Linked DNA regions of Homo sapiens. The protein of the gene in region 2 purifies or fractionates together with the protein of the main gene of each other region. This does not show direct contact. Each region holds a gene or a part of one and is shown on either strand. Other genes may lie near its edges.

Region 1 (6,122 bases), on a different chromosome or scaffold from region 2:
GAGAGAAAGACTCTTGAAGATTCTTGGGTTCCTGGAGTATCTGATGCTCCAGAAAAGAACCACAATGAAGGCCACAGGATAGCAATGAAAATAGTGTGACCTCTTTCTTCTGTTGTGTGTTTCTTCCTCAGCAGCTCTTTCACCCCTCTGATAGTCTTTCACCTTTTCTCTTCTGATTTCCTCTTGATTTCAGGTACCTGTTGCTGTGTGTTTGTAGAGGGAGTGGTGTTTCCCAAATTGCAAGTGCCATATCCCCCACCTCTCCCTAACTTACCCAGCGTGTCTCTTAATTAAGACATTGAGTGGTCTGCATCTTATACTAATTTCATCTTGGAGGGTGTGCTGGGTGAACAGACATCTGTGTGTTTGCTTGTGTGCTATGTCCCACTCTGCATGGCTGAGGGGACTGTCACTCTCAGAGGGCAGGGACCATGTTTTATATTGTATAATCATCAAAGCACCTAGCACAGTCTTCTGCTTAACATAGGGGCTCAGTAAATATCTGTGGAATTGAATTGTTACAAAAATAGAGCCACAGCCACAGTTGCAGAACTCTTGGCAGGAATACTATCCCAGGGACAGAACCCAAGATGATCCATTTTCTTCTAGCAGTGGTGGTATGTCGGTTGGTATACCCCAGCAGCCAGGAGTGAGGCTGCTCTTTGAAGAAGCCATAAAGGGAGAGGCCCGAGCAGAACTCCAGGCTGTGCCTGGAAGAGTCCCAGGTTTTGCTTGGGAATGGTCCCAGGACTCATGGCAGCAGAGCGAGAGTAACCTCCCAAAAAAGGTTATAAGTTGCAGGACCCCACTATATTGACGTTTAGGACCCAGATAAGAAGATTTCCTTTTTTTTAGTTTTTTTTCTTTCTTTCTTTCTTTTTTTTTTTTTAATGGAATCTTGCTCTGTCACCCAGGCTGGAGTGCAGTGGCATGATCTTGGCTCACTGTAACCTCAGCCTCCGGAGTTCAAGGGATTCTCCTGCCTCAGCCTCCCAAATAGCTGGGATTACAGGCACCCGCCACCAAACCCAGCTGATTTTTGTATTTTTAGTAGAGATGGGGTTTCACCATGTTGGCCAGGCTAGTCTCGAACTCCTGAACTCAAGTGATCTGCCCGCCTGGGCCTCCCAAAGTGCTGGGATTACAGGTGTAAGCCACCACGCCCGGCCAGATAAGAGGATTTTCTAGAGTCCCCTGTCTTACCTCCCAAGTTTTCTCCTTAACAAAATTAGAAAAAAGAGATACAAACTAGCACCCGAAGTAGCTTAAAATCCTGAATAAATGTACATTTAATTGCTCTTGCCAATTGCTTTTGATGATTTATATCAGCATGATGTCCCATTAATAAACCACAGTAACAATGTAACATAGCTAACATGTTATAGTGCATCTTGTGTCAAGCTCCCTGATAACTGCATTCCATGTATCATCTCATTTAAGGTGACAGCAGTTGGTTGTGAGGTGTGGATACTGTTACTCTCCTCACACTGCAGAGTCTTAAGAGACTGAGTTTTAGAAATGTGAAATAATTTGCCTAAGGTGACAAAGCCAGTGAGTGGCTGCTGCAGGACCGGAAGCCATGGTTTTCCCTCCTCCTGTATGGTAATGGTAATAATTATCACAGCTGCCTCTCCCCTTTTAGGCTAGGCCTCATACACTTGTCTTAATCACATTTCCCCATTTGTTTGTGGGATTTTTGTGCGCTTCACTCCTACTCTTACCCCATCCACTTCCTTTTTCAGTTTACCATGGGATCCTTTGTAGAAGGCCAACTGACTGACCATATCTGCCCACTCTCCACCCTAGGGAGGGCCTGACCATAACTACACCAAGGAGAAGATCAAGATCGTAGAGGGAATCTGCCTCCTGTCTGGGGATGATGCTGAGTGGGATGACCTCAAGCAACTGCGAAGCTCACGGGGGGGCCTCCTCCGGGATCATGTATGCATGAAGACAGACACGGTGTCCATCCAGGCCAGCTCTGGCTCCCTGGATGACACAGAGACGGAGCAGCTGTTACAGGAAGAGCAGTCTGAGTGTAGCAGCGTCCATACTGCAGCCACTCCAGAAAGACGAGGCTCTCTGCCAGACACGGGCTGGAAACATGAACGCAAGCTCTCCTCAGAGAGCCAGGTCTAAATGCCCACATTCTCTTCCCTGCCTGCCTGTTCCTTCTCCTTTATGGACGTCTAGTCCTTGTGCTCGCTTACACCGCAGGCCCCGCTTCTGTGTGCTTGTCCTCCTCCTCCTCCCACCCCATAACTGTTCCTAAGCCTTCACCGGAGCTGTTTACCACGTGAGTCCATAACTACCTGTGCACAAGAAATGATGGCACATCACGAGAATTTAGACCTGGATTTTACCATGAACCTCACATCTTGTACTCCATCCTGGGCCCCCTGAAACTGCTTATTCGTGATTCCTCACCAGCGTAGAGCTCCACCTCCCCTTTCCCCAGTACCCTCAGTGCCTGCTTCTCAGTGCTGATGCAGCTGATGACCCAGGACTGCGCTCTGCCCCATCACAGCCAGCATGACTGCTTCTCTGAGAGAACTTGCCCATCAGGGGCTGGGACATGGGGGTGTGGGTAAAGACAGGGATGAAGGATAGAGGCTGAGAGAAGAAGGAAGAATCAGCCCAGCAGGTATGGGCATCTGGGAAACCTCCAGCCTCAAGTGTGTTAGTAACATGAAAAAGCTTTGGGGGGTAGTTGGATCTGGGTGTCTGGTCCATTGCTGGCAGTGGACATTATTCTTGCCCTAAGAGACACTGCCTTTTCAGCAGCAGATACTGGTGAGATGGGGGTGGCTCAGGCTGTTCTTCCTCCTCCTAGAATGTCTGGAGCTGTTTCTACATTCAGATAACTGGGTCCCCTATCACAAGGCTACTGGCTAATAGGAATTCCCTCCTGGTGCCACCACTGGCCAGTACCTTTCCTAAGTCTTTGCTCAAATTAACCAGGTTGTGAGCCAGTGGCTTGAGTGAATGTTAGGCCTTGGGGGCTGAGTCTCTGAAAAGTCTAAGAAGCTCTGCCTAGACCAAATATGGTATACCTCCTGACCCCTCTCTCCCTCATGTCCTGGGATTCTGGGGAAGAGACCTAGAAACAAGCTTTCAAAGAAAAACCAGAAGTTGTCATAAATGGTCAGAAAGAACGATCAGGTTGGAGACTTGGGAAACCCAGGGCCTAAAGAGAAGTATCCATGAGGGTCAAACTTCCTGTTGAACTTCCTATGTTCTTTCTCAAGTGCTCAGGGATCTAAGTTAGTGGACAGCAAGCCTGTGGCTACGGGGTGGTGATGTTCCTCTTCCAGCTGTCCCCTCAGCTAAGGGGCTTAGTTTCCATGTGGGATGCCATCACTTGGTTCATGCTCATTCACACAAAGGGCACGTGTCTCAGCCTGGTATCAGGGAAATTGAGACTTATTTTTGCCCTAAAACGTCTCCCTAGCTGTTCTTCGTGGGGTTTTTTTGTTTGTTTTTTTGCCTAATTTGCTTTTTCTGACCAAGCCTTGTGGCACCAGCAATCTCCAAAGTCCTGTGGTGGGAGGGCTGAATAAATAAAAATACAAAGAGGTGGGTAAGGAGTAGGAAGGTAGAGAGCACCACTGATGAGGCCCTCCTAGCCCATGGCAGACCCAGACCTCTTCTCCCCCAGGAATTAGAAGTGGCAGGAGAGAACAACAGGGGCTGGGAATGGAGGGGAGAATTTCTAGGGGAAGTTTCCTGAGTTGAAACTTCTCCTGTGGTTACTGGTATTGAGAAATCAGCTACCAAAGTGAAAAAGGACAAGATCAATTCTTTTCTAGTCAGTTCTAAGACTGCTAGAGAGAGATACCAGGCCCTTAGCCTTGCTCTCAGTAGCGTCAGCCCCAGTTCTGAGCCTCCCCACATTACACTTAACAAGCAGTAAAGGAGTGAGCACTTTGGGTCCTTAGACTCACGTCTGGGGAGGAAGAGCAAGTAGAAAAGTGGCATTTTCTTGATTGGAAAGGGGGAAGGATCTTATTGCACTTGGGCTGTTCAGAATGTAGAAAGGACATATTTGAGGAAGTATCTATTTGAGCACTGATTTACTCTGTAAAAAGCAAAATCTCTCTGTCCTAAACTAATGGAAGCGATTCTCCCATGCTCATGTGTAATGGTTTTAACGTTACTCACTGGAGAGATTGGACTTTCTGGAGTTATTTAACCACTATGTTCAGTATTTTAGGACTTTATGATAATTTAATATAAATTTAGCTTTTCTTAATCACCTTGCCTGGCTTGGAGTCATGACTAATCCTGCACCTGCTCTGTCTGGCAGACCCATGCTGTGGAAAACCTGCTTACAGACATCACTTTTAAGTCCTTTGTGGATGTGGGCACAGTGAAGAGCAATAAAGAGTGTGAGGTTCCTGCTGGAGTTTTCAGCTCATCTGGAGAAGACAGGTCGAGGCCAGAGTTCCTTGACTGATGAAACCTTTATTTCCTCTGGAAGAGGAATGGTAGATGGGTTTCCTCTTGAGTGCTGACTCTGACTGGTTGGTAGTGGCTGCCTGAGGGCCTATTCGCACCCAATGGGAAGAATGTCATATGGCTAGTGACATCTCTTCTGTGCACTGGAAGGAAATGTCATGGCATGTATACCATGTATCTTCTATTTCTGTTCTAGGTCTTTGTTACAGAACTTTACTTTGCCTTGCAGTGATGGTCACTGGCAAGACTATCTCATGTAGTAAGAAAAGTACTGGAGCTGGGGACATGGAGGGCTAATTCCAGTCCCAGATCTGCCACTAGCTCTGTTTGATCTTAGTCAACTTTCATAGTTAGTCTGAGAGTGGATCAAATTATCACTAGGATTTCATTTATTTTTAAAAGCTGTCTTTTCATAGCTCATCCACTACTTCTCAAGGCTAGAACAAGGAGCTAGGGATCCCTTCTCAGGTTCTCTGGATGTGATATCCCTCAGTGAAAACTGGGAATCATGTTAATCTCAACGCCCGATGTAGAATTTCATGTCAAGTCTCAATAGTTGATTTTCTAAACCACACACCATCTATAGGATAATATCCCCATTCATTCATTCATTCATTCATTCATTCATCTGCTATGGGCTAGGCACTGCCCATGCCTAAACAAAGACATAATCTTACAGAGCTTAGAGTCTAGCAACACCATTACCACCACCATCCCAAAAAAAGACAAAAAATGAAAGTAAGAAAGACTGAAGCTTCTTGTATTTAAGTGACCAGAGATCTGAGTATAAGCTACAGTGTATAATTTTTCTAACTGTAGTAAGGAGTAGGTGTGCCAGAACAAAAACAAGTAGAATAGCCCAAGGATAACCATCCCTCCAACCCCCACTGTTCTCTTTGGGAGGGAAAAAAAAAGCAGAAAAGGAGGACATCTTGGGATAAAACAAAGGTTGGGAATTCCTTGTCTAGTTCTCTGGTATAAAATCTGAAACTAGGGTCAGGCACAGTGGCTACACCAAAGTAATCTCACCACTTTGGGAGGCCAAGACAGAAGTAAGGAGTATTGCTTGAGGCCTGGAGTTCACGATCAGCCTGGGCAACATGACAGGACCATATCTCTACAAAAAAATTTAAAAATATTAGTCAGGTGTGGTAGCTCATGCCTGTAGTCCCAGCTGCTTGGGAGGCTGAGGCAGGAGGATTGCTTGAGCCCAGGAGTTCAAGGTTACAGTGAGCTATGATCACGCCACTGCATTCCATCCTGGGTAACAGAGCAAAACCTTGTCACTAAAAAAACAAAACAAAAAAACCCTGAAACTGATAAGTGAGCAGATGGTGGGTCAAGTTCTAACAAACTGGCCATATTTTTGCAAACTCACTCAAAATACAGTCACGGTCTGTCTATGGTGTATGAACAAACTGTGGAATCTAAAATGAAAGGATCTCTGGCCCATAGAAAGGACTCTGGATAAACTGAAGCTGTCACCAAACGTAGGCCTAAATTCAATGCATAGGAACTCAGAGGCAGCATCTACAAAAGCTGAGGGTGCACAGGTTTCTAAGTGGGTTCTAAGAGGGTTCTAAGAGGACCCAGTAATGCACTGATATCCAAGGTTATCCAGGGTCTCGCTCTGTCGCCCAGGCTGGAGTGCAGTGGCACAATCT
Region 2 (6,669 bases):
TTCCACCAGGCAAATAGGAAGGAGTGGCCGGCAGCCCCAGGGAAGCCGGAGCTGGAGCATTCTTGAACCAAGTTGCAGATGTAATGGTTGAGACGTCCCGGTCTTTACCTGGACCTTGGAGATTTAGTCAGGTTGCCTTGTGTAATCCTGATGCTGCTCTTTTCTTGTTAAAACAATCTTAAAAGTCCTCAGGCAGAACAAAGAGCAGATGCCTAAATGGCTGTACTTTTGATCCTGGTTTCCCTTAGGAGGTGCTCAAAAAGCATGAGCGTTTATTTATTTCGTCTCTTTTGGAAGAATGTTTGGGTTTAATGTGAAGTGTATTTAATGATTGCATTTAAAAACTGATTGCATAAATAGAGGGCTGTGCAAATACAGGAGGGGCTGCCTTGATGCAGGGCTTGGACCCAACCCAAGCCATCCTGAGCACTTAATGAAGGTGTCAGTGACATTTGTTCATTTGTGCATGCAGAGGCAGTAGAGGGCAGGGGGAGCAAACAGGAGCTTTGGAGTCCAGCAGGCCCGAATGCCTCCCTGTCTGCCCCTATTTCTTTGCTGTTGCTTTTTGTTGTTGTTGTTGTTTGCTACGGGATATTGACAATCTCAACCTTAATTCCTCACCTGTGCACTGAGGATTGCAAAGGGCGCCCTCATCAGTTTCATGTGAGGATTACACGAAAGGAGGGAAGCAAAGCGGGGGAGGAGGATGGTCCTGAAAGTGTGGATCGGTGGGCGTTTGCTCCTCCAGCCCTGGGTGGGAGACCCTCAGGAGCACGAGCGAGAACTTCACAGCCTGTGGTCTCTCCTTCCCTCACAGAAGTGGTCGACCAGAAGGCCGTGTATTTCTTCAACCTGACTTCCATGCAAGACTCGGAAATGATCCTTACGGCCACTTTCCACTTCTACTCAGAGCCGCCTCGGTGGCCTCGAGCGCTCGAGGTGCTATGCAAGCCGCGGGCCAAGAACGCTTCAGGCCGCCCGCTGCCCCTGGGCCCGCCCACACGCCAGCACCTGCTCTTCCGCAGCCTCTCGCAGAACACGGCCACACAGGGGCTACTCCGCGGGGCCATGGCCCTGGCGCCCCCACCGCGCGGCCTGTGGCAGGCCAAGGACATCTCCCCCATCGTCAAGGCGGCCCGCCGGGATGGCGAGCTGCTCCTCTCCGCCCAGCTGGATTCTGAGGAGAGGGACCCGGGGGTGCCCCGGCCCAGCCCCTATGCGCCCTACATCCTAGTCTATGCCAACGATCTGGCCATCTCGGAGCCCAACAGCGTGGCAGTGACGCTGCAGAGATACGACCCCTTCCCTGCCGGAGACCCCGAGCCCCGCGCAGCCCCCAACAACTCAGCGGACCCCCGCGTGCGCCGAGCCGCGCAGGCCACTGGGCCCCTCCAGGACAACGAGCTGCCGGGGCTGGATGAGAGGCCGCCGCGCGCCCACGCACAGCACTTCCACAAGCACCAGCTGTGGCCCAGCCCCTTCCGGGCGCTGAAACCCCGGCCAGGGCGCAAAGACCGCAGGAAGAAGGGCCAGGAGGTGTTCATGGCCGCCTCGCAGGTGCTGGACTTTGACGAGAAGACGATGCAGAAAGCCCGGAGGAAGCAGTGGGATGAGCCGAGGGTGTGCTCCCGGAGGTACCTGAAGGTGGACTTCGCAGACATCGGCTGGAATGAATGGATAATCTCACCGAAATCTTTTGATGCCTACTACTGCGCGGGAGCATGTGAGTTCCCCATGCCTAAGGTAGGGTTTCTTCCGCCTTTTGCCAAATTCTAAGGCTCAGCTCTGCCGCTACCGTCAAGTTCCTCAGCCTGCAGGACTTCTGTTTCCCCATCTGCAAAATGGGAATAACAGTACTTCCTATCTATTCCAGGCAGGAAATAGGTAGACATAGGTCACCAAGTGGCAGCCCGTAGGGTAGTTGCCGCCCACATATGTGTGAGTTTGGCTGTGTTTTTTGAAGTATTGGCTTGGTTGAATTGGGACTTTAAAATGAGAACATTCTTTTGAAAAGCAGGAGAATCCATGTCTTTAGAAACGCATCCCCACATAGCAACTATCTGCAGAGGTTGAGTAGATGCTGCTTCCTGTACACACGGCAGGTCCCAGAAGCTCCCTCCTGACCAAGGCTCTCATTTCTGTTCCCAGCCTGGACCCCAGAGTGTGGCAATCTGTGACTAGCACAGTGCTAGCCTCAGCAGCTCTCCCACTGTAGATTCCCTCCTCCTTGCAGCTCAGGGCAGGAATCCACAGGGAATAGGCCTTCACTGTGCACAGGGTCTGCAGGACACACAGCACTGGGCTGTTCTGTCTGTTGCACCAGCCTAAGGATTTCCAGTTCTCACCTTCGCTCCAGACTGGGCTGTGGCTGAGTCCATCCCTCTCCCTGCAGCCTGCTCTGCAGCAGCCTGGCTGCTTGTGATGTCAGCCCTCGGCACTCAGCACACAGTTTCTTCCTGCTTAGTTACTCTGCCCAGGGCAGGTCATGCCTTTCCCTCCAAGAAAAGAAAGTCAGTGCATAAATCCAATTTGAACTTAAATAATCAGCCAGCTGGGGAAGTCCAGACCCAGACATGGGGCAGCAGTAACGTGTTTGGGAATTAAATGGCTTCTCCTCAAAACTTCTCCTCAAAACCGTGCATGTGCAAGAGAGAGGGAGGTGCCTGACATAGAGACGGAGCCTGCTAAAAGGGCCTAGCAAAGACCCAGGCAGATGCAAGCCCGGAACCCTGAAGGCTTGCAGCTGGTTGGCCATGCGGTTAGCTTATCACCCTGGCTTGCTGCCTCCCCACCTTCCGGGACACCAGCCAGAACGCTGCAAAGGCAGGTGTCCCTGCCCTGCTCCCTTCCCACCACACCCACACAAGAGGGCTTCCTCCTCAACAGCACTACATATACAAATCTCTGTTTGGCTGGTGATGCACTGAAGTGGATGACCCGGTTGGTTCATCTTGTCAGAGGTGGGCACAGTTTTCCAAGCCAGGTCACTTTCTAACTAGGGGTCTTGGTCAAGTTACTCAGTCATTTTAAACCTCGGTGTCTTCCCAGTAAAGTCCAGGTAATACCCACCCCATAAAATTGCTAAGCTGACAAAAAAAAGGGGGTGATGCAGGGAGAGCAGCCCCTAGGAAATGTCAATGTCCAGCCTGTCACACTGCCACGCACATGCCAGGCCTTCCCTTCAGTGACAAGAGCACAACCTCGTGAGAAGCATGCCTGTCCTCCTCAGACTGCGAGACCAGGGCTGTGCTGGCATCTCGCTGGGTTTTCCCTCTGGGCAGCTTCTGCCTGCTTCCTGGTGCTCCGCGGGGATGTGTGACACTCAGGCGCCCCCATGTGGCCCTGCCGTGTTGGGGACACAGCGTGCCTCAGGGAAGCCAAAGGGCAGGAAGGCCTGGGGGCTCTTGGAGACCTCAGCCCGGAACTCAGCGTATGTCTGATTTTAGAGGAACCGTGTGCCCCGCCTTGGGATCTCGTCCATTCCTCTAGGTGGATGCCTATTCTGTGGCCTCAGCCGGGGAACAACAGCAGAGCAGTATGGCCTGGGACTGTGAGGATGGCATGGGTGCGTGGGTGGGTGAGGGCGGAGCTGAGGTAACCCTACTCCTTTTCTGCCTTGCAGATCGTTCGTCCATCCAACCATGCCACCATCCAGAGCATTGTCAGGGCTGTGGGCATCATCCCTGGCATCCCAGAGCCCTGCTGTGTTCCCGATAAGATGAACTCCCTTGGGGTCCTCTTCCTGGATGAGAATCGGAATGTGGTTCTGAAGGTGTACCCCAACATGTCCGTGGACACCTGTGCCTGCCGGTGAGACCACTCCAGGGTGGAAAGAAGCCACGCCCAGCAGAGCTGCCTTCTCGGAGCCTTCTGCAACCAGGACTTGTGGTGCAGCTGCAGACACAGAGCACAGCTCATGGGCAACATCACTGGGGCCCAGAGAGAGCTGTCCGCCAGTGCATCATTAGGGGGTCTTTCATTGCTAGTGACTAGCCCCTTAAATGCCAGCCTGAGTACCTGAAGGAATCTGGGAATTAGCCCTGGCCTGAAAGTGGCCCATCATTCATACCCACTGTTCTGAAGGCTTGAAAACAAAACATATCCACAACATTGGCTTGATGTGATCATCATCTCATAACTGAGCAAGAAGACTATGCAAATCTTAGGGCGCTCGCTCCCTGCACACGGAAAGAACTCTGTTTAAATGCTCAGTTCAGAACACTTTGGGCCACATAGTGATTTTGGAAAACAGGATAATCGTGGTGTAAATGAGTGTTTCCTTTCAAAGTCCACTGCAGAGCTTTTATCCATATGGTATGCACATGTAGCCAATATTGGTTTCTTTTTCTTAATATATATATTTTATTTTAAAACAACAAAAAGGGAGGGCGTTGACACCATTCCCCACAGAGATAGTCATGCTGAGTGTGGGTTGTTTAAACATGCATATTGAAATAACACATATAGTAACGTGGGAATACTAAAAAATAACCAAGATTTTATATTTTTGTAAATTATACTTTCTATACTGTAGATTGTGTATGTTATGTGTTTTTATGGAAAGCTAATAAATTAAAGGTACAGTGGTATCTTGAAAAACTGAATGTCACCCATTTCAAAATCTCACTGGCTCCCCATCTGTAAGTACACCATCTGGTGGTTGCTGGGGTCTCAGCCTCTTTTAGGGTCGCTGGAGTCCCCTAAGCCATCTCCATACTCCCTGGTGTCTGTCCCAGGCTCCAGAAACCCAGGCTTTCCCATGCTTTCCAGGGGCCTGTCCCACTACTGGTTCCTGCAAACCCAAGCTAGGCTGATGTTGAGAATGGACATGGCTCCAGACAGGGACAGTGGCCTCTCGGGGTTTCTCCTCATCCCCTAGCCTCAGGGACATGGATTGATTGGGAGGTGCCTGGGGTGTTTAAAAAAACATCTATGGTTGCCTGGTCAGAGATCTTTTACTTCTGGTAATTCATGGAGCAAGAGATTCAACATAAGTAGGGGTCTCTCCTGAGGTCCAAGGACTCATGAGGAAGTGGACGGGCCATGTGGTCTCCTGCACCTGCTTCTCTTTTGCTTGTGTGTAGAAGGATCACCCAAGCCACCCCAAATTGTTCCCTTATGCCCTTCGTTTACATTGCCTTATGATGGAGTGCCTGAAGCTGCTTAACCAGCATTTCTGAAAGAGAATCTGGATCCAATTTGAGACAGGTGTATATATAGCAGTCCCATCAGCTGGGACCTACAGATGACGTGGCCCCAAGTCTTAGAGGAAACTGCAAAGCCATAGTGGTTTTCTAAGAGGGGATGTCCAAGGAGAGAAGCAGCTCTGGTGTCTGTCTTGGGCCTTAGGCTGGGCTCTGGAGACCAGGATTCCTGTGCAAGGGATATATGGGGAAGTGCTCTCAGGAGACATGGGCAAGGGTGAGGTGAAGCAGAAAAGCAGGCTGGGAGCAATCCTGTGGGGAGCTTTGGAGCTTAGTTACTCCTCAGGGCAGTGTGGCCTCGAGCAAGGGAGCTGGGTGTTCAGGGCCTCTTGGCTTCTGGCTGCCCTGGGAAGGGCGATGTAAAGTCCCAGTTCCCTGGCCTTCTGCCCAGGCAGCCACAGTGATTCCAGGAGCCTAGGTAGCATCCGAAGAGTGGCAACTCCTGGAGGCGAAGCCATTGAAACTGGAGAATGATTAGCCAGAACTGGTAGGTGAGGGGGATGCGAGGGTGCCAGGGTGAAGCTCCGCAGCTTCTGCTCAGCATCTCCTATGAGGTGCTCCAAGTGACCCTGGGACACATGCGTGAGCAGCTGCCGTGGGGACCCCTACCTGCTGGGCACATGGCCCTGCCTGCTGACAGAGGTCAGGGGAGTGGTGGGATGGTCCTCCACACTCACCACCTTATTCCCTTACTCCCACAGGAACTGGACATGGGACCAAATTGTTCCCTTCAAGCTGCTATAGGTTGCTGGGCTGGCGCAAACTGGCCTGCACTTTAGTGCTTGGTTTGCCATGTCTAATTCTCTTTGGAACATGACAGGATATAAGTTAATAGCAAAATAAGTAAAAATATTGGGGCTTAATAAAACTCCAAGTCCCTTTCTTCTGAATATTCCATCCCTCATTTTCTTCTCATTCAACTGCCCCCTTTCTATTTTTGCTAAACATGGGCTGTCCAATAGTAGTTTTATCTTATTCTTTCTAGCACTTGCAGTTTCTGGGAGGCCTTCTGGATTCCCCCCAAATACCTGGAATGCCTCTGAGTCCTCATGTCTGGCTTACTGGGATTGGGGAGGGCAGGCTGGGACACTCTCCCTGGGTCCAGCTGTGGGCATGGCCTCCAGGCCTGTGCCTGGATGGAAGGTGCTCAGTTGTTGCCATCTTTCCTGGGCATGCCCTGAAGACCTTGGAATGTGAAATGGGGCAGGTCCCAACTGGGGACATGACATGTCCCAACTCTACAGTAGGAGAAGCTGGTATCATTAGTGACCCCTCCAATGTATAGAAGACCACGCAGTTACAGGATCTTGCTTAGCCTCACAGCAGCCTTGCAACTTACTGCCCAATTGGAGCTGCAGAAAAACAAGCTCAGGAAGGGTAAGTAACATGTCCATTGATGTCTTGCCAAGACCACAGGGAACATTAAGTTTGATGCTCAAGGCCGCCTGATTTAAGGCCTACATGA

Evidence for each region.
Region 1: the proteins of GDF10 (region 2) and LRP4 purify together in Homo sapiens (affinity purification with mass spectrometry; 2 studies listed by BioGRID and IntAct, with this or other methods). This does not show direct contact.

What each region holds. Positions count from the first base shown.
Region 1 is NC_000011.10:46,855,000-46,861,121, reverse strand, and holds the end of LRP4 (low-density lipoprotein receptor-related protein 4 precursor), read left to right. Parts: intron 1-131; coding exon of another isoform or gene 132-176; exon of another isoform or gene 177-193; intron 194-1,806; coding exon 1,807-2,139; 3' UTR 2,140-4,405; downstream 4,406-6,122. UniProt on the Homo sapiens protein: Mediates SOST-dependent inhibition of bone formation. Functions as a specific facilitator of SOST-mediated inhibition of Wnt signaling.
Region 2 is NC_000010.11:47,308,979-47,315,647, forward strand, and holds the end of GDF10 (growth/differentiation factor 10 preproprotein), read left to right. Parts: intron 1-817; coding exon 818-1,743; intron 1,744-3,622; coding exon 3,623-3,814; 3' UTR 3,815-4,599; downstream 4,600-6,669. UniProt on the Homo sapiens protein: Growth factor involved in osteogenesis and adipogenesis. Plays an inhibitory role in the process of osteoblast differentiation via SMAD2/3 pathway. Plays an inhibitory role in the process of adipogenesis.